2 separate regions of the Homo sapiens genome follow, and region 2 is linked to region 1. Evidence: fine-mapped QTL for protein levels in blood plasma. Region 1 holds a variant in brackets. A gene starts in the other region. All regions are shown on their reverse strands.

Region 1 (11,001 bases):
TATCCTTAAAGTGCATTCCAAACCCAGATCTTGTGTAATTCTTTGCTTGGACTACTAGTCCTGCTATTCTTGCTATTTTAAGCTTAATATATTGTCTTGCCAACAGATGTAATGTTTCCTGTAAATATTCACCAGTTCTCTGTAAAAAGAGAAGAAAAATAGAATCATGGCTTGAAGTGTTTTGTGTGTAATGAGTAGTACAGCAAGAAATCACTGCTAAATCCTAATGTGGATGTTAAAGAATGTTATTGACAGGAGCTACATTAATATTAAAAATAGCATTCATTTGTTTCAGAAGGACAATAAAGGCGCACATAATTTTATCTTTGGTGTACAAAACTATACAAAACATACACACGTGCATGTACCCAGACACACTAACTACTCACTCAAGACCAACTCATTCAAGTAACTCTGCTCCAGACTATCCTGTAGTTTATCCACTGCACTCATTCATTCATTCATTCATTGAAGAAATAGTTATGAACATGTACTCTGTGCCCGGCACTATTGAGAATATCACACTGAAGAGACAATTTCCTTTTTTTTTTTTTTCCCCACTTCTCCTCCTTTCTAGGAAAATTCTCACGTTTTTAATGTCTTGCTTACAGTTAACTGCTGTGACCTTGTAGAAGAAGCAGTAATCAAAATGAGCACAAGCTTAGGGTGGGTGTCCGTGGAGGTGAGACTGTGACTTCAGAGGGGAACAACTCAGACAGAAAGCAAGTTTATTACTTGGTAAAGAGCAAGGATGGTGTAAACACAACTTTCCACCTCTTGGCATACTACAACTAGGAGTTACCCTTCGAATATGGAAAAGTATAATTTTAAAGACAAATAATGTCTCATTTCATCTCAATCATAACAGATAATTGGACTTTTCCTCAAAGGTGGTTCTGAACAACAACAACAAAAATGTGTGTGTATTTGTGTATGCATATTTCACTTTGTTCCAAGTATTATTTATGTCAATAACACTTTTCCCCTGGAATGTGTACTAACTGAAAATGTAAATACATACATACACACACACACACACACACACACACGCACATCTATACATACACATAAATGTCTATATTATACTTGATACATTTAAATCCATTTCAATTATTTTTATTGATACTCAAAATGACCTTTATTTTGCCAGAAGGAGCCTCTTCAGGCTGGCTCCTGATTCTTCTGGGCATGTTTTTAGGGCTCTTGAACAGCATCTTTGTTTTCTGACATGAGAGGATGTTGCAAACTCATTTTGAACATTCCATGCCATAGACCTAAAATCAACCATTTCTTCACCAATTCCTGGTTCCTTTTAGTGGGTAATAGTATTTGGAGACCACAGTAGGGGGCTTTAGAGATGCCCATTTCTACTGGGGCTGGTCCTTGGTCTGTCCATTTTTGTGTATCTGCCAGTGTATCTTTGGGATAGATTCCTAGAGGTGGGATTACTGGATCAAATGATGAGATAGAAACATTTTAGTGAAGAATTTCATAAGCAGACTCTCAAGCTCTATTGGAAAAGAAAAAATCAAAGTTAACCACAAACATTTTAATAGAGAGAAAAAAAGGTGGTAGACTTTCCTTACCAGATACAAAAAAAAATAGTATAAAGCTATAGCAGCCGAGACGGGTGGTGTAGGCCAAGAATAAGCAAGTAGAGCAAGTAACCTGGATGCAGAGATTATACCCAGGGAAAGAACAGTTTAATCAGTAAATAATTTGCAGGAAAATTGCTTATCCTGTTTAATAAAAGTAAAAGTAGTCTCTATGTCACAGCAAAGACAAAAGATATCTATTTGGACTTAAGAAATATTTTAAAAATATAAGCATTAAGGAAAAGTATGTGAGAATATTTAATAGGCTTGCGGTGGGGAAACTTTTTAAAGCAAGATACAGGAAGACACAGGAGATAAGGATGATTCCAAGGTTTTTGCTCGAGCAACTGGAAGAATTGCTGCACGATGGGCCACTCCTTAGTGACAAATATTTATTAAGCGCGTATCATTTGTCAAGCACTGTTCTAGTCTCTGGGTTTTTATGACTTTAAAAAATACACAAAAATACCTGCCTTCAAGGAAGTTACAGTTAGGGAGAAGACTGGGCTTCTGTTTGAAGCCATCCTTGGCCTTGAAATACCTGGGCCTGTCTCCCCTGGATATCTTTGAACTGTGTCGCAGAGGGGTTAAAGTGACCTCCTTCTCTCCCAGCCTTGGCCTTCATCTCTAGCCCTTGCCTCTCCTTCTAAATAGGTGGTGATGGCAGGATTCCAAAAAGTTTTCTCTATTTACTTTCCAAGATATCACAGGGTTTCATCAGGAAGAGAAACTGTGTTTGTAAAAGATAAACAAATTCACTATCTGCTGATTAAAATTTTTTAATCTCTATTTCCCCAATACTAAATTTAATTTACATTTTGTGACCCCAGTTCTCCTGATGACAGAAACCTCACGTAGGCACATCTAAGCAAACTCAAAATCAGAAGGCTCTCAAGCACTGCACTTTTGAAAACAAAGTCACGTTGAGAAATATTACCTCTTCCCTTCCTCCCTGTAGTTGACGTGAAGCTCTGGGGCTTGGGCAAAGTTACAGCAAAGGAAGAGATACTTACCTCTCAGCTCTGACATGTCCTGTGCTGCCATCCTCTGAGATGCCCAGTTGTCTCATCAATAGTCATGATGGTCTTTGTTGGTCATCCGCATGTCTGTTGGTTAGTTTCATAACCTTTAATGCAGCTATCTCCTGCGGCTTCCAGGATCTCTTCCCATGGATATTGCCCAAGAGAGACACATCTCTTCTTGGCTCACAAGGTCTGTGGTGTCATCTACTGCCATACCTTTATTATTGCAAGACTCCTTCAGGTGTCTTAAAATTGCATTGATTCTTTCTCTGCTATACCTCTCTGGAATACATAAGCTTCTTCAGGTGCCCTCTCCTTTACCACCCAATGGAGTAGTTTTACTCTACTGCAGGGGGCCCCAGTACCCAGGCCGTGGACTGATGCTGATCCATGGCCTGTTAGGAACTGGGCCACACAACAGGAAGTGAGCAGTGGGCAAGTGAGCATTACCACCTGAGCTCTGCCTTCGGTCAGATCAGCGGCAGCATTAGATTCTCATAGGAGCGTGAACACTATTGTGAACTGTATGCGAGGGATCTAAGTTGTGCACTCTGTCCCTGTCTCCCATCACTCCCAGATGGGACCATCTAGTTGCAGGAAAACAAGTTGAGTGCTCCCACTGATTCTACATTATAGTGAGTTGTATAATTATTTTATTCTATATTATAGTGTAAAAATAATAGAAATAAAGTGCACAATAAATATAATGTGCTTGAATCATCCTGAAACTGTCCTCCAGCCCCATTCCACTCCATGGAAAAATTGTCTTCCAGGAAACTGGTCCCAGGTGCCAAAAAGTTTGGGGACTGGCCAGACGTGGTGGCTCATGTGGCAGGGCGTGGTGGCTCACGCCTGTAATCCCAGCACTTTGGGAGGCTGAGGCAGGTGGATCACGAGGTCAGGAGATCAAGACCATCCTGGCCAACATGATGAAACCCTGTTTCTACTACAAATACAAAAATTAGCTGGGCATGGTGGTATGTGCCTGTAGTCCCAGCTACTCGGGAGGCTGAGGCAGGAGAATCGCTTGAACCTGGGAGGCGGAGGTTGCAGTGAGCCGAGATCGCACCACTGCACTCCAGCCTGGGTGACAGAGTGAGACTCTGACTCAAAAAAAAAAAAAAAAAAAAAAAAAGGTTGGGTACCACTGCTCTATTGTCCGCTGTCATTATGACCAAGGGCACTTCTTTGGGATGTACCACCATCCCAGATATCCAGATGGAAAGAGGACCTGGGGACCTCTATGCCTAAAGGGAGGCTTGTCAATCATCTCTTCTGTGACAGAGTTAGGGGTGTGGAGAGAGTGTGGAGAGTTCAGGGTCTCACAGCAACATCTCACATTTCTCATTCTCCCCTAACTCTTTCCCTCTTCCTCTCCTCAGAGGTTTTTTCTTCTCTGGAGTGTGGAAAAATTTCACACTTACCAAGCATTCATTCCAAATCTTCCTGTCATTCATCAAGAGGGCAGCTTTTTAAACTTTAAGAGCCAAGAATTTTGAGAGTGTTGATTGGGCTTCTTGGTGTGTTTATTTGGGGAATGTCTCCAGTAACGTCCCGAATGCTACTCCGTCGCAGAAGCCACCCTCTGTGCCTGTCTTTGGTGTGGTCCCATCTGTACGATTTTCCTTGATCTCATTTGATTTTTGAGAAAGAGTGTGGTGAAATGTTTGAATACCTCTTCTCAAACTGCTGGCTTTCCAGATATTTCTGGAGGCATTGTTAGTTTCATTTAATTTTCCTTAAATTCAGGTTTAGCAGCTTTAGCTTTGCCTCACAAACACTAACTAAATTTAGGTAAGAATTATTGAATTGTAATGAATACCCACTGATTATATACTAATGAAGATTGCTTTCTACGGACATGAATCTCATAGTCTGAGAGAATCTGGATCTCATAGTCTGAGAGAATCTGGATCTTATAGTGAGTCTGCACCCTAAAGTGAATTGTATCAAACATTTTAAAAATCACAATATCTCCTTTTCACTTTAACACAACATAGGATGCAGTTGTCACTCTTCCTGCCTACCTTCTGAAAAACATGTAGTGTTTCTTGAATTCTTGCGGAATAAACATGAAGTTCTTTTTTAAAAATTAATTTATTTTTTAATAGGAATTTCTTCTAAGAACTTACCAGAAAATATACCCTGGTGCTTCTTTATCTTTTCTACTCATCTGTAGTGAAAAGCAACAACAGCAAATTGAATTAAATGCCAGATTCACCACTGGAGTTCTTGTGCCTTTATAGTCTGGTGTTACAAAGCATCAATGGCAATATATAAATGTCTTTTTAAAAGGTTTCATTTTTTAAAATTCTATCTGTAGAGAAGGAAGAGCATATATCATTGTAAAACAGAATTCACTTGTCCTAAAATAATAAAGTCCCAGTGTCAGATTTAGTGAATCAGTATTTCTGGATACCACCAAAACTAGCTATTTTTATGCTAGTACCGGGTGGTCCAAAAAGATGAAGTATTGAATCAATTCTACATTTTTTGGAGGAGCAAGTGGAAAAACAAATATAGGAAGCAGGTCAGCCATTATTGACTCTGGAAAAGACATGTTCTGTTAAATTTCCTTCCCATTAGGATTTTGGTGTATGACCATGCAGTGGTTTGGATAGAGATGATAGACAGATAGATAGATAGATAGATAGATAGATAGATAGATAGATAGATAGATAATTTGTGGAATTTGGATTCAGATTTTGTTCATATTTTGAGAGCCTGAGAATCAATAAAAATAATATAATAATAAGTGATAATATTGATTAAAAATTCATTCCATAAGTGTTTGTTGTACTTCATTAGCAAGCTCCATCAGCAATGTTGATGAGGATGATAGTTTTTAAATGCTTTTGAGGTTTATTGTGGCTCTGTGAGAAGATCATTGTAGGCTCTCATCTGTGCCTATTTCTGTTTTACTCTGACTAGGGCTTCCATCCCTCATGCCTGTGAAATACTAATGATCTTTGCAAGTACTGCCTTACGTAAGAAGAGAAGCACACAGTAGGCAAGACAGTACACACTCATATTAACTTTCCCCATTTCATTACAGCAAATTCTTCTTCATGCTAGAGAAAACTCAACAAAAGTTGTATTTCTCATCACTGATGGATATTCCAATGGGGGAGACCCTAGACCAATTGCAGCGTCACTGCGAGATTCAGGAGTGGAGATCTTCACTTTTGGCATATGGCAAGGGAACATT[C/G]GAGAGCTGAATGACATGGCTTCCACCCCAAAGGAGGAGCACTGTTACCTGCTACACAGTTTTGAAGAATTTGAGGCTTTAGCTCGCCGGGCATTGCATGAAGGTAATGGAAACCTAATGGCATCACAAAGGTACTTTTAAATGAGGCTTCCTTGCCTCTCACTGCTTGAAACCCATGGGAGGGTAATATCAAACTCTCACAAGGTCTTTGCTGAATATGATGCCCATGTGTCCTTTGGGCATCATGAAATGTGCTGAACTTCACAGAGATGACATTCTGACCTTGCAACAAGAGTTCCTTTTGTTTTTTTTCTTAGCAGCTGTTATGTGTTTTCACTAAAATATCCATATGCTCCCACCTTAGAATCAGTGGAATGAATTTAGGTGTGTTTTGAGGCCACACACAGAGTGGGAAGCCTTGACTTAGATCTCTTTACAGTTATCTGGACAGAGGAAGTAAACATTCAGAGACATGCTCAGTGAAACTTACCAGAATGTTTCCAGAAATACACATGAAGATACAGGAACAATAAATACTTAACACATACTTCTTGCCCTGACCATTTGAAGATAGATATGCTTATGTAAAAGCTTAAGAGCATTAACCCTAAAAGGGAAGGAAATCAGCAAATGTATCATTATTAGAGCTTTCTGTGCATCACTTATAATTTAATTATAAATTATAATTTAAAAATTAAATCATAATTATACATTATAATAAGTTAGCTGTGTAATATAAATTAAACTTCCTATCAGAATATAGGTTTATGTCTTAGTGAGCTAGGAGAAGAAAATACAGACTAGGAAGAAATCACAGGAAATCTAGCCTCAGATTAAAGTGATATGGCAAATTAGGCTTGATCCTTGCAGATATCCATGTGAAAGATTCAGTTTGAGGGGAAAACCATGGCAACATGAGTTCTAAGAAATTAGTGATGTTCATAATAAGTGGGTTAGCTCTACTGGAGTTTCTTTTTAAAAAAAATAAATAAATAAAGATGGTGTCTCGCTATGTTGCTCAGGCTGGTCTCAAACTCCTGGGCTCAAGCATTTCTCCCACCTGGGCCTCCCAAAGTGCTAGAATTACAGACATGAGCCACCATGCATAAAGCAAAAAAGATTTATCTCTCTGAGGGATGATGCTGGCCAAAGTTTTTGGAGGCTGGGATTTTAGTGAAGTGAGCAAGGACTTAGGACAGGGCTTAGAAGCAGCAAGAAACTGAGTATGGGAAATAAAGTATGGATTTGCGTTTAAACAGGTTTGGATCTAAGTTCCAGGCCTGCAACTTAATGAAATCTAATTTTTAAGAGCTAAGCCTTAAAAATCCAGAATGTCTGGATTTAAATCCCGATTTTGTTACCTACTAGCTGACGTTTTCTGTTTTTTTGTTTGTTTGTTTTGTTTTTACATATCATTCATCTTTTATATTCCTTAGGTTTCTTGTAAATAGAATAGGAAATGAGAATAGTACCTACTTCATAAAATTGTTACAAGGATTAAATGGGTTAATACATATAAAGGGATGAGAAAGTTCCTGATGGCTTGTTATACTCAGCACTCAATAACTGTCTACTATTACTGATATTTATTATTTATTAACAAATTATCATTATTAATTCCCCTAGGCAATTTATTTAACAACTATGAACCTCAGTTTTCTCTCCTTTAAAAATGGAAACTATTATTATATGTATCACAGAGGTTTTCAGGAGGATTAAATAAGATATTTAAAACATCACCAATATAGTATGTAGCACATGGAAGAAGTTCAGCAACTGGCTACCTTTATTTCTCCTTTTCTCCAAGGAAAGTGATATGTTAAGAGGGAAAACAGGGTGGTTGCAGTTGGAGATACTGGGTGTTGCCAGATGGGATTATGAAATTATGAGTGCTATCAACAAATTTCAGCTCCTGTCATCCCTCTGTCTTCTAGGAGTGGAGACTTCTGTCCTGATGGAAGTTGACCCAGAAACTAGAGTCAACAAGGAAAGGGTTTTGGTTATCATAATGCAATAGGGTTTTAGGAGACACCACATTTATTACACTAAACTAATATCTAAAATGTGTAATACTTTAGTTGAGTTTCTAGGTTTAGTAAGTAAAACCCTGTTTTTACTGGAAAGACATGATCAGATCAAAGGAAATGAGCCTCATTTCCCCTGCCTCTGTGTTCTCTGCAGCTACTTTCAATTTAGATGGATCCACTTTGGGTTTCACTGCTGTTCATGTTTCTGGCCATTCTCGATAGACATAGGTTACAGAATAATAGCTTTCCCCATTTGTACCTCCTCCACTTATCTCTCTTCCAGACCTGAATGCTGGTACACTAGTCTTGACAGCTATGTTTGTCTTTTCTTTTCTTCTCACCCTTTTTGATACAGGGTCTCATTCTGTCACACAGGCTATATAGTGCAGTGGTGTGATCACACCTCGCTGCAGCCTCCACCTCCCAGGCTCAAGTGATCCTCCCACCTCAGTCTTCCAAGTATCTGGGACAACAGGCATGTACCACCATGCCCAGCTAATTTTTTTAAAAATTGTTATTGTTTTTGTAGAGACAGGGTCTCACTGCATTACCCAGGCTGGACAAGTAGGTTTTCCTTGCTCCCTAACTTGCTTTACTGCCAAATAAACCTGTGGTCCAGTGTCTCAGAGCTGAGTCCTAAGGGCCTGTGTTACAGATCTTTTACCCACACCACAGTCTATTGGAAGGAGCTTACCAGGGTACCTGGTTGCACTGGTTTCTTTCCCTTGGGGCTGGAATCTTCCCTTTGCTTTGCCCCTATCTAGATGCATGGAGATGGATGTTCTATATTTGAGTCTACCACCAATCTCCTTCCAAGGTGTCCAATTGCAGCCCGTGTGTCTTGCTGGAACTCACCCACTTGAATTCCTACTATAAGCCCATCACAATATCTGGGCTTAGAGCCCCATGGACCTAGTATTGGAATTTAGTCTAAAACTTTCAAACTTCTTGAAAAGAATAAAGGACTTACTGTTTGTGTGATTCTAGGCCATCCATTCTGGGTCAATCATATTCAACCTTACCCACCCTGTCAAGTCACTTTCTAAACAGGTCTGCCTGAGTTATTGCATTCCCAGCATGCCTCACTTCAGAGCATGGCTCAAGTAATAAGAATGGTCTTTATTTACCTACTCAAATACCATAGAAGTGACAGTGTTTATTCCAAAGTTGGTGGCTCACAATTAACATCTCTGTGCAGTGATCAGGATGGTGGCTTTGTTTCTCATTGGAACAAGGATCTGGGGACTCGTTGCTGGGGCCTGACCTCACCCAGAGGCAGTGGAATGCTGCTGCTTTGGAAGCCAGGGGAATGACCTGCAGAACTGACTGCACTGTTTCCTGCAGCATCTGGAGATTCCTCACTACACTACTTAATTTCTGCCTGACCCTGAATGGCCTTGAGAACTTATGATGAGGTCCCAGACTGGAATAACTTAACTGGCTTCAACGAATTCCCAGAGCGCGCTAGTACAAATAACACACATTCGTATTTGGGTGGGAGCAGGAAGCAGTTGGGAATTAGAGGGATATGGAAAGATATTTTCTCCAGCTTGCACTTAAATTTTAATGACCAGAGAATGTAACATTGAACTGTGACTCATTTTTATCGCCCTCTGTCATATGTTATTTGTAGATCTACCTTCTGGGAGTTTTATTCAAGATGATATGGTCCACTGCTCATATCTTTGTGATGAAGGCAAGGACTGCTGTGACCGAATGGGAAGCTGCAAATGTGGGACACACACAGGCCATTTTGAGTGCATCTGTGAAAAGGGGTATTACGGGAAAGGTCTGCAGTATGAATGCACAGGTGAGTCTCCAATCTGTGTATATCAGTTGTCTGTTGCTGTGTAACAAATGATTCTAAAATGCAATGGCTATAAGGAATACATGCTTGTTATTGCTCATTAGTGTGTGGGGTCAGTGGCACATCTCTTTGGGGCTTCAGCTGTGCTGACTCATTTATTTGCCATCAGCGGTGAGTTGAGTAGGCTGCTGGCTGATCTCAGCTGGATTCTCTTATGTGTTTGGGTGTCTGACAATAGTCTGACCTAAAATGGCTTTGTCTAGGACAACAAGGCTGTCCTTTATGTGGCCTCTCATACTCCATCAGGCTAGCCCAGGCTTGTTCAGGTGGGGACGGCAGGGTTCCAAGAAGAAGAATGGAAGCTTGTAAGGCCCCTTGAAGCCTAGGTTCAGAACTGGGAGGAGAAAGATTTGGGGTCTTTGTAATTAGTCTAATAAAACAGCCAAATCTGTCCTCTAGGCATGTAAACCAAAATGTGCCTCAATCTCTCTATGAGATTGAAGCCAGTGGAATTCTTGTCCCCAGGCCACATGTAACTGGTAAGATTTACACATAAAAAAATGCATCCTTCACTTGATGGCTTTTTAAACTCTTCAGGAGCCTCCACAAAAGTGCATTGAAAAGTTCTAAAACTGCCATCACTTCGAAATGGAATTGGAATGACTACTATCAAAAAGACAAAAAATTACAAATGATGGCAAGGATGGAGAGAAAGAGGCACTCTTAAACACTGTTGGTGGGAATGTGAATTAGCATAGCCATTATGGAAAACAGTATGGAGGTTCCTCAAAAAACTAAAAAGAGAACTACCATATGATCCAGCAATCCCACTACTGGGCAGATATTCAAAGGAAAGGAATTCAGTATGTCAAAGAGATATTTGCATATGCATGTTTCTTGTACCACCATTCATAATAGCCAAGATATGGAATCAACCTCAGGGTCTATTCAATGGAAGAACAGATAAAGAAAATGTGGTCTATATACACAATGGAAGACTACTCAGCCATAAAAAAAGAATGAAATCCTATCATTCGTGGCAACGTGGGTGAGCCTGGAGTTGTTAAGTGAAACAAGTCAGGCACAGAAAGACAAACACCACATGTTCTCACTCATATGTGGAAATTTTTAAGATTTGATCTCGTAGAATTAGAAAGGAGAAGAGTGCTTCCTAGAGGCTGGGAAGGGTAGAAGGTATGGGGGATGAAGAGAAGTTGGGTAACAGATATAAATTACTACTAGATAGGAGGAATAAGTTTTAATGTTCCATAACACTGTAGGGTGACTATAGTTAACAAATAATTTATTGTACATCTTCAAATAGCTAGAAGAGAGGATTCGA
Region 2 (10,437 bases), not on the chromosome of region 1:
CTCCCAGAGAACTTGGGTGCTGGGATGGGGAGGAAGGGGAGAGTTGAAAGCTAGGGGAGCGAGACCTCGGGGCGTGCGATTCTCACTCGCTCCCTCCCGCCCCAGCGCCCACAGCCGGGGTTTCTGCAGAGGGCGCGGGACGCGGGGTTCCCCGGGGCTGAGGCTGGGGCTGGAACACCCCTCGAAGCCGCGGGCGTCCTGTCCAAGGCGCCCCAGGAGGGCGCAGGACTCGCAGGGCGATGTCGCGGGGCCCTAGGGGAGGAGGTGAGGACAGGCCCCGGGGGAGCGGGGAGTTCCGGGCGCCCCTCGGTTCCCCGCGCGAGGAAAAGACGCGGCGTTCCCTTTAAGCGGCCGCCTCGAACGGGTATCGGTAGCGCGGGCGAGCGGGGAGCGGGGGGCGGGGGGCGGGGGGGGGGGGGCGGCGCCGTTTGACCAATCGAAGCTCAACCGAAGAGCTAAATAATGTCTGACCCGGGCGCAAGGCGCAGCCTGGAGCTCCGGGTCCCCGACGCTGCCGCCGCCGCGCCCGGGCGCACCCGCCCGCTCGCTGTCCCGCGCACCCCGTAGCGCCTCGGGCTCCCGGGCCGGACAGAGGAGCCAGCCCGGTGCGCCCCTCCACCTCCTGCTCGGGGGGCTTTAATGAGACACCCACCGCTGCTGTGGGGCCGGCGGGGAGCAGCACCGCGACGGGGACCGGGGCTGGGCGCTGGAGCCAGAATCGGAACCACGATGTGACTCCGCCGCCGGGGACCCGTGAGGTTTGTGTGGACCCCGAGGTAGGCAAGCGCTGGGAATGGGGCTTGGTGCAGGAGCTGCCCGTCCGCGGGAGAGAGTTGACTGGGGGATCCCCCACCCCAAAGTTGTGGGACGAGGCCAGTCTCCTTCTTTCCTCCCCTCCGGTAGAAGGGACGATTTGGAGTTACTCTTGGGGAGTTTTCTCCCCCATCCCACAACCCAGAAGGTCAGCCGGCACCACCAGGGAAAAAGGGACCCGGGGAAGTCACGAAGTAGAGGAGGGAAGGCCTGGAGGAGACCCAGAGCTGCGTGATGGGAGCAAAGACGGCGACCCGGGGATCCCTCGCAGCCCTCCCCCAGCCCAGGAGTAGTCGAGAGAGACTTAGGGGGCCAGAGCTGTCGAGGGTCCTGACTGAGGGGAGGGTGCTGGGGCTAGGCTAGGAATCCTTCCAGGGGGTGGGTGGTCCCCGCGCCGACTTGCGGGGGGAGTGGGAGGGAAGCTTGCGCCTTCAGCCCGCATCCCTTCCCCGGAGCTGCACACGGCTACCTGCTCCCCAGGAATTGAGACTGAAGTGGACTTACAAGTCCGAAGCCAATGTAGCTTGGAAAACTTGGGAGGCGGAATTCCTACCGCTGGGAACTGAAAGGGTCTGCGACACTCTCGGGCAGGCCGAACCCACATCTCTACCCATCCTGCGCCCCTCTTCTGAAGCGCCCTCCAGGGAAGTTAAGAGTTTTGACTTTCGGGGAGTGGTTGGGATGTACGTGGGGGATTCTTGACTCGGGTTAGTCTCTGGGGATGCAGAGCCGGGAAGAGGAATGGGTGAGTGAGTTACTCCTGGAAAGAAATAGCTGAGGATTGGGGGCTCTGTGCCTGACGGGCAAGAAGAAGGGGAGATTACAGACTAGGGGCATCCCTAAGGAAGAAGCCTCGGGGCTGCGAGGGTGAACTGGAGGATGCAGTGTTTGTGTGTTGGGGGTAGAGCGGGGATGAGGGACCGGGGTGGAGGGGAGGCGAGGAGGAGGAGGGGACCCAGAGAACGAAGCTAGGGAAGGTAGAGGGTGCCCTCTGCCGGCCATGCTGCCAAGAGCAGCTACTGGGGGCGGGAGGCTGGGGGTGGGGAAGTGGTAAAGGAAGGTTTTGCGGGATCCCTTAGAGAGCTGGTAGGAGGGACTTGTTGAATGGTGCTGCTGACTCCAGCTCGGTGGGGCGTGCGACTCGTCGTCGGTGGATTTTGACTCCTCGTTCTTGTTTGGCTTCTATGCAAGTTTTCCTCGCGCTGGGGGAGCTTTGATAAGCCTCGATTGGCGGTGTGTTAGGGCTTCTTGGATCTTATTTTAGGGTCCTCTAGTTATCCTGCACTTACTCCTTAATGTCAGTAGCAACCAAAGAACATTTTCCGACAAGCACGCAGGAATGTTCTTGGCCAGAAGCAAAGAAAGGCATATTTCTGAGTGTTTATTAATCCTCCTAGTAATCTTTTAAAGCAAAGTAATATGTAATTGGGAACGTTGATTTTCTAACTGCATATAAAAGGCGACATGATATTAAATGAGACCCCTCCCTACTGACTCAATATCCTGCAAAATCTCTCTCTCCCCTTTATTATTATGGAAAAATCTATTTTTATATGAGTTTGTTGTAAGGTCAAAAGCCATTTTGGTCTTACAATTTGATATGTCTTTACATTTTAACTTATTGAGGCATAATTACAGATTTAATTTGTATGAACGTGTGTGCCTTCAATGCTTATCTCATGCAACATAATTTTTAGGTTGGAGATTTCTGATGTTATGGCATGTAGCGTTTCAAGGCATTACACATAATAGGTAACATAGCATGTTGAAATTACACCACAAAGTTTTGACCCTGGGAACAGCACCTTTTAAAAACAATCACTAAACTCCTGTTCCTGTTTTCTGATTTTGCAAATGCCTTGCTTAAGACTTTTTTTTTTTTTTTTTTTTTTTTTTTTTTGGGAAATTTACCTCTGGGTTAGCAGGAGAGGTAAAAAAAAGGAAAGAGACACTTGTTGAAATGTAACCATAACCTTTACTGGAATTTAAAACATGTTGGTCACCATTACTGGAATTCCAGGGCCATAAAGTCGTTGTCTTTTTTTTCTTCTACTTCATTTTGTAAAATGTGATAAATGTTGGTAAATATAGACCAGTAGTAAGTATTATGACACTAAAAGCATTATGTATGTGGAACTATTTTAAGTTATTACAGAACATTTTCTATTTATAAATGATATAAGCAGAAAGAAATGATTTCCAGATAAACAAGGCTTACGTACATGTTTTGAAGCATTAGAACATTGCAGACACTCTTAGACATCACATTTTTTAAAGCAAAATAACAGTAATTTTTCACATACCTTTGGAGCCTTTCATAGCCCATTCAGAGCTGAGTTAGTAGCTGGAAGTTTCCTTTATTTTAAGGTGATATTTTAAAACCATTTAACATGTATAGTAGGTCAACATTGGTGCATCCAGAAAATGAAGCATTTAGGAAATCTGTTTCAGTGTCTTTTCAATGTGTGTAACTTTTACTTGCAAACCAATGGAACCAAGAAAGTCATCATTTGCCTAAAATGCAGTCATCACCTCAAATGATTCATTTATACTATGTGAGTTAATTGCCTTCATCTCATTAATGGCCAAGGAGGGAAGGGAGGTCCTGGGGTATTTCTTGTTCATTTTGACTCACCAGGAGGGAAAATCCTGTAAAAAAAGAAATGCAAATTTCTAAAATCCTGGCTCAAAGTCCGTGGGTTTCCTGTTTAAAAGGGGCGCCATGAAAATGTAAGCTATTCCCTTTTTCCTGGAATCTTTAAGAGTCCCAGCTTTTCAATAGTCAAAATGTAGATGATTGATATCATTTCTTATATGAATAGCACTGGTTTGTAGTTCAGCACGCACAGTGAGCTGGGCACGCCCACCTGATAGTATAGCAGAGAACTTGTTTACATTCTTTTTACATTCATCTTCTAAAACCTGGGGTGCTCTCTCTCTCTCTCTCTCTCTCTCTCTCTCTGTGTGTGTGTGTGTGTGTGTGCGTGCACGTGCGCGTGTGTGTAGAGGGGGAGAGAGAGAGAGAGAGAACTGTGAACTGTGAAATATAACACAGCCAGCAGCTTTGGGTCTCAATCGTAGACTTACTCTTAAGGAAATTTACAGAATGGAAAGGTCATGTTCAAGTAGTTTATTAACATTTTGAGATGTAGGAAATTAATCCCGGAGTACAGAAGAACAATTTCAGACTTCCTGAATAAAAACAGACAGCATAGAGAGTGGATGATAGCTAAACTCTGAATATCTTTTGAGAAGAAAGGCACTCCCATTTCAGGTGCCCATAATATGGATTTGATTTTAGTGATTAAAACATTAATTTTCAACTTGCATCTCCCTGTGTGGAAGAGTTCAATTTGTGTGAGGGGTCTCGCCTATCCAACAAAAGTGAATATGTCCCTTTTATAGGGTAATTGCTAACTTGTCTCAACTTGTTTTCAAACAATTGTTATAGAGCACTCAGTTTCCACTAATTGCAAAATTGTTGCTTAATTGAAGGACTCTCAGCCATCTAGTGCAGCCATTCAGCCACTGGCAGGCTCTGTGATCTCAAACTGTGAATTGCATTTTAAAGAGGAATCGAGGAGAGAATTCTGTGGAATTCTAGGTTTTAAGTGCTGGCTGTTGTTCAATGGAAGAGGAAATCATTTGAACAAGAATCGCATCAAGTTGTGTTGTGATAAATTTTCTTTATTAGGATGAATAACATGCACAGATGAGCTTCAAAAGTGAATGAGCAAACTTACTGGTTACACTCTGCATCCATTTACTCTGTTTAGTATGGAGTAATGTTAGGCAATAAATGATGCTGGCAAATGAAATCCGTATGTTATTTGCATGTGGTATTTAAACCTAGGAAACATAGAGTGGCTTTGGTATTTGTAGGCTTAGTCATGTGTGTCCTAAACGTCCTCTTAAACTTCTACTTAAGGCATAGAATTATTTAATCCTAAATAATTTTATACTTAAGTGCCTCACTGGATTTCCAGAATATTTACACTGTAAAGATTTAGAAAGGTCATGAACCCAATTATTGACTATATGGAATCATTATTGATGGCAGATGCAAAATGGAGCTCACTAATGTACTGACATTGAAAACCTTTTGCAGGGGAGAGGAGGGGGAGTGGTAAATGTGTGTGTTCTTTAAGTGGAACAGGAAGGTATTCTCTTTTCTGTAGAAAAATTTGAGTATCTGGTCAGATAAGTGTGGAAGCTTTCATTTAAATTAAGTATTTAAGTTCAAGTAGAAGCTCTAGGGCACTTATCCTCTTGATGAGACAAATCTTATCAAATATACTAGATGCTAAGAAGTGGCTCATTGCCCTGATGTCTCATTTATAGATTGATGTTTGAGGATGGGTTGCATTAAGTGAGTTAGGGGGCTGAGTGTGGGACAGGAGAACGATTGGAAGGAAGCAAAGTAAATTTACAAGCTTTAGTGACAGCCATAATAAAGTAAAAGTTTATTTCCAGAGAGCCTAGAGAGTAAGGAACGTTATATAGTTTTCCCCAAAGGTTCACTTGAAAGAACTTTTCATTGGTTGTCATGGTAGTAATGTCCTGATTTTGAAATCTCCCAGAACCTAGTAGCTCTTAAACATGCTTTCATCTTGGTTCCTTTGGTCTGACGGAAACTTTATGACGACCCTCTGTGTTTTTGACATGCCTCTGCATTTTTGGAGAGAGGAGGTCAGGCAAGGGAGGATTTCTTAAAACTAAGACAGTATAGTAAGGAAACATAAAATTATATGATAAAAAATCACTGAACTTCAAATTGACTTACTGAAATAAAACCTAGAAGGCAACCTGTCGTTTAATTACAACTAGCTTGTATAAAATTAAAATTTATAAAATGGGAATTCAAAGAAAATAAACGGGCAGTTCCAAGTAATTTAAGCAACTCACCAAAAATTGAAGTAATAGTGCCACCTAGAGAACAAAATCACCAGCTTTACTAGCCAAATGGCTTATTTCCATATGAACCATTTTTCCAACGCTACAGTTACTAGGATTTCCTTGTTACCATATTCAGATCTTGTGAGTGTGTATGGGGGTGGGGGTTGCATGTGGAATTACAGATGAAATTTTAAAACAAGCAGATCCACAATTTGATATATGCACTAAATCCTTTTAACGTTGTAATGTAGCCAAATGTAGAATAGCATGCCAGGAATCAACGGCTAGCATCCTTTTTAACATTTATTATTTTCATGGATATGTACCAAACCGAACCATTGAGTATAAAGGTTCTGATTTTATTTATTTGCTACAGGCAATTCATTATACTTTCTGAGATACAATAACACCAAATAATTTGAGTAGAGAGACCTTTAAGAATGTTTTCGATTTATGATCTACCTTTAACTTTAATGTACTCAGAAGATGTGAGAATAAAATAAAGTCAAATATAAGCAAGATTTTAAACACACACACAAAAAACAAACAAACAAGAAAAAGGAAGAAAATTATAAGGATTGCCTTAACCTTAGAATAGATGAAGGTATACATCTGAGCCAGCACCAAAAAAAAAAAAAAAAAAAGTTATGGAACCAGGAACCAATAATTACAAATTGACTTAAAATTCTTGGATGACAAAAATCTATATTTAGTTCATTTTTGCATGCGCCCACAACAGCATCCAAAACAGTTCTGGGGAGGCACTTTGATAAATGTTGCTGAATGCACTAATAGATTGATTAATGGCTGCTTCAGATTATCACTAGTGATGTAGACAGAAACTTCATGAAAATGGTTTGTCTTGCTGGAAGAAAGGCAGAAATTGGAGGAAAAGGTTTAATAATATTTTTCCCCAGTACCTATTATAAAAGTCATTTAGTTGGCTTAGTTCTATAATTTCTTATGTGTAATTTGATTCACTTATGAAATTGTGAATATATGAAATGTTAAAGTTGATTTAGACAGCAACTATAAGCTTGTGGATTTTCTTTTAAATGTCTTCAAATTTTTAAATGCCAGTGGAGATGCCAGCGACTGTGCTTCAGGGAGTAGAATATAGTATATCTTAAATTTGTGCCAATTTCTGGTAAGCAGAGAAAAAATTGCATGATAACCAAAGAAAGTCATATTGTTTGTGCTTTGTGTTATTCATGGAAGCAATCAGGTGCAGAAAACTTTCTTTTTCAGAAAAAAAAAATTACTAAAATAAAGGTGCGTGTGTGTGTATGCACATATATCTAAAGGGAGAGAGGGAGAAGGAAACTTACTAAATAAAATTTTTGCCACATGGGATTTAGTCTAATCAGTCTTGGTTTTGGAGTTGCTATCATCAGTAGTTCCATTTTGTGATTCTTTCTTTCTGCCTTCATGTGCCTTTGAAAACTGAAACTATGCCCAAATTAAAACAAGTTTTTCTGTCTTTTCACATGTTCACTTATTTCTTGAATGTGTTTTTAAACACAGACAAACTTCTTTTACATCATGTAGAATCTGAAGGTCGAGAAATTTGCAGTCATTTTGCTGGAGAGAGATGCTTGGCGGAGTCCCAGGCCACATTCCTAGGCCAAACTCTCGAAGGTATTCCTCTTATGCAACATTGGGAAAATACATCCAGCACCGACATGTTGGCTGATAATGTGTCTGAAGGCACAGACGATATGCTTATCATATGAAACATAAAGCCAGCAGATATTGCAGACATTCTGTTGAATGATAGAATCTGGATCATTTACATTTACTTAAATGTAAAATACTATGATTAAGTACAAAAAAATCAATTTAGGAGAGAATAGAGAGTTGCGGGCACGGTTTTAGGGGATGACTTATCAGCAGATTGTAGAAAGGAAGCTTGAATGTTTTAAATTAACTGCAAGTTCAGTATAAGCCAGTGGTGTGACAAGAGGCTGTTATCATAGCTACTGAAATTTTGGGCTGCACTGCTAGAAATATAATACTGAAATGGAGAAGCTAATAATTCTTCACTTTTTAAATAGACTGTATCTAGAATATTATCATCAGTTCAAGGAAATGAAATAAGTTGTTTTAGGTACATCATCGATAAATTAGTGTACATTCAAATCACTGTGACCAGGATGCATAGGGAATTTGAAAGCATTGCATGTGAGCAATGGTTGAGGGGACTTGGAATGCATGACTTAGGGACAAGAAAACTTAGGCTGGAATGGCAAGTGGTTTTTGAATGTTGGGTTGAGAAGAATTCTAAAACTGTGAAGGATTAGTAAAAATAACATTCAGATTGCTAATGCCTACTGTGGCTGGGAGATTAGAGTGTCAACATGTGTGATGTATTTTTGACATCCTTATTTTGAGGATGGGCTTCAAAGATTTGACGAACTGTCATAAGTGTAATTTGTGTTGCTTCAGACAGCAGTTCTAGAACCAATGATGTAAATTTAGATACTCTACATGGTAGTTAGAAAACTTTCCATTAATTTAATTTAGCAAATATTGAATGCTCACTGCATACAGAGCACTTTATTAGAGGAATATATAATAAAGAAAAAAGAGGTCTGGTGTGGTGGCTCATGCCTGTAATCCCAGCACTCTGGGAGGCTGAGGTGGGAGGATCACTTGAGCCCAGGAGATCATTACGAGTCTGGACAACATAGCAAGACCCCATCTTTACAAAAGACAAAAAAAATTATCCAAGCCTGGTGACAGGCACTTGTAGTCCCAGCTACTTGGGAGGCTGAGGCAGTAGGATCGTTTGAGCCCAGGAGGTTGGGGCTGCAGTGAGCCGTGATTGTCCCACTGCTCTTCAGCCTGGGTGACAGAGTGAGACCCCGTTGGAGGGAAGGAAGGGAAGGAAGGAAGAAAGGTAGGAAGGCTGAAATGAAACCCTTTTAGAAATGACACTAAAATGGGAGGTTGGAGTAAGGTATTTTCTGAAGTGCCTTTGTACTTGTTTTTTTCTAATGCATTGGCCATAAGTCTGCTCCTTATTTATAGTCCATAAACAATCCTAATGAGAACAGTTATATATTTCTGCCTTTGAATCATCTACTTGAAGTGTTTAGCATCATGAATTGAGTATCAGAAATCCCTCCCATTTCTTTGCAAAGCGCTGTATTTTACTTTTCCTTATTTGTATACAGATTCTCAAAATTGGCTATTTTTCCTTTGGGTTAGACAGAACAGAATGTCTGGAAAAAAAAGTTCTTATCAAATTCAGGTGCCCAAATTGCTTAAGAAATTAACTTTTGAGGTTATATTTTTTTAGGGTTCAGTAGCTAAACTAAGAAAACTTCTCACCGTTCACCTTCACTTTTGGAAACCACAAAATCTTCAGATATTACAGTTTTCCAAAGAGTTTCTCTTTTTAAATATAAACTAAAAGGAATTGACTCCTCCCCCAACTCCCTCAGGCCTCAGCATGGATAGAGTTACTTTTTTTCTTTAATAATTTATTTATAACTTATTTTGCTCTTCTGTAGAACAGCTGGAGATTAAGCAACATGGCCATGACATAAAATGCAAGTTAGACCATAAGATGAGCAGCCCACTCCAAGTATGAATGAGTACTTATTCTTTGTGATCTCTCATACTGCTTTTAGGTATTAATAGTGTCAGTCAGCAAAGCAAACAGTTTAATATTTACATCTCCTTTAGGATATCATATAGTTTATAGTTTGTATGTGTTCTTGCGTGTATGTTTTCTTCTGTTTCAAATTCTTTTTTCTTAAAGTAAGAATGTTATATGTAGCAAATGGTTCTTTCATTAATTCATTTGTTAATTCACCGTGCATTAATTGAGTGCCCAGTGAGTGTCAGGCACTGGGCTACTTGGATTTCTTTTCCCTGTATTGATCCATATATCTTCAGGTGCTCCTTGATATGGCTCTCCATTGACTCTCTCATATAAGGCTTTCATTACCTATTCACATACTCCCTCCCAAAGAGGACTGGTCCAAAAGTAAAATCTTGAGCAAGTTCTCTGAGTTATTTCAGAACTTCTTGCCCCCAAACTGTATTTTTAATTATTGACTGGTAGCATTTTGGAATAACTTACCTCTCTTTTTTAAAGATTGAAGTTCTTTATCCTCTCTGATTTTCAGGTGTCAGTTTGTGTACAAATTGAGACAATAAAAATGTTTGTTAGACATTTTCTTAAAGCATTTTGCTATGTGAGAATCTTTCATGAAGAACTCTTTTTAACAATGACTCTATAGCAGAAGCCACAGTAGAGGGAGAACTACTGAATCAAAGATGGTGTTTGAGTCTATGATTTTATGATGGATTTTTTTTTTTTTTACATACAAGGATATGCATGGGTCTTTTAGTATTCAGGAATCTGTTCTTCACTTGACAGTATTTATAAATTGTGTGTTTCCCCCTAAAAAAACTTAAATTGTGAGAATGCTTCCATTTACTAGAAGTTGGTTAATGATTATGCCAAATAAGGAAAATAAGACAGAAAAATCAGTTTAGTGAATACTATTTTGCCTTTAAATTTAGTAATTTAGTAACAGTATCTCTTTGGGGTTTACTAGAAACCACTTTTTAATCCAATAGGTCTCTTTCATTGTGAAGTCAGGAGGTGATTTTGCTTAAATGTGTAGTATAGGAATCTATATGTGGTGTTCAAGGATCATGTAAATATGCTGATATAATCGGAGCACAGTTTGGCATCATTAACTCAGAAATATT

Alleles and levels. Alleles are on the strand shown, and positions count from the first base shown. The strength of an association depends on the size of the effect and on how common the allele is.
As copies of G replace C in region 1, the plasma level of the protein whose gene starts at base 485 in region 2 goes up (weak association).

The links. PIP is the posterior inclusion probability: the model's chance that the variant is causal. The UK Biobank Pharma Proteomics Project read protein levels with antibody pairs (Olink). The fine-mapping took linkage between variants from a reference panel, not from the people measured, so its PIPs are less certain.
Region 2: BDNF starts here. The variant in region 1 is fine-mapped to the plasma level of the BDNF protein (UK Biobank, PIP above 0.99).

What each region holds. Positions count from the first base shown.
Region 1 is chr9:110,544,776-110,555,776 of GRCh38, reverse strand. It overlaps SVEP1 (sushi, von Willebrand factor type A, EGF and pentraxin domain containing 1), which reads left to right. Exons shown (of 48, transcript NM_153366.4): 2 at 5,673-5,928; 3 at 9,486-9,662. Among named protein-coding and RNA genes, the nearest start is that of SVEP1, 29 kb to the left of the region's middle. The variant C/G (reference allele first, on the strand shown) is at 5,826.
Region 2 is chr11:27,690,503-27,700,939 of GRCh38, reverse strand. It overlaps BDNF (brain derived neurotrophic factor), which reads left to right and starts at 485. Exons shown (of 2, transcript NM_001709.5): 1 at 485-776. It overlaps BDNF-AS (BDNF antisense RNA), which reads right to left. Exons shown (of 7, transcript NR_033315.1): 7 at 2,769-3,462.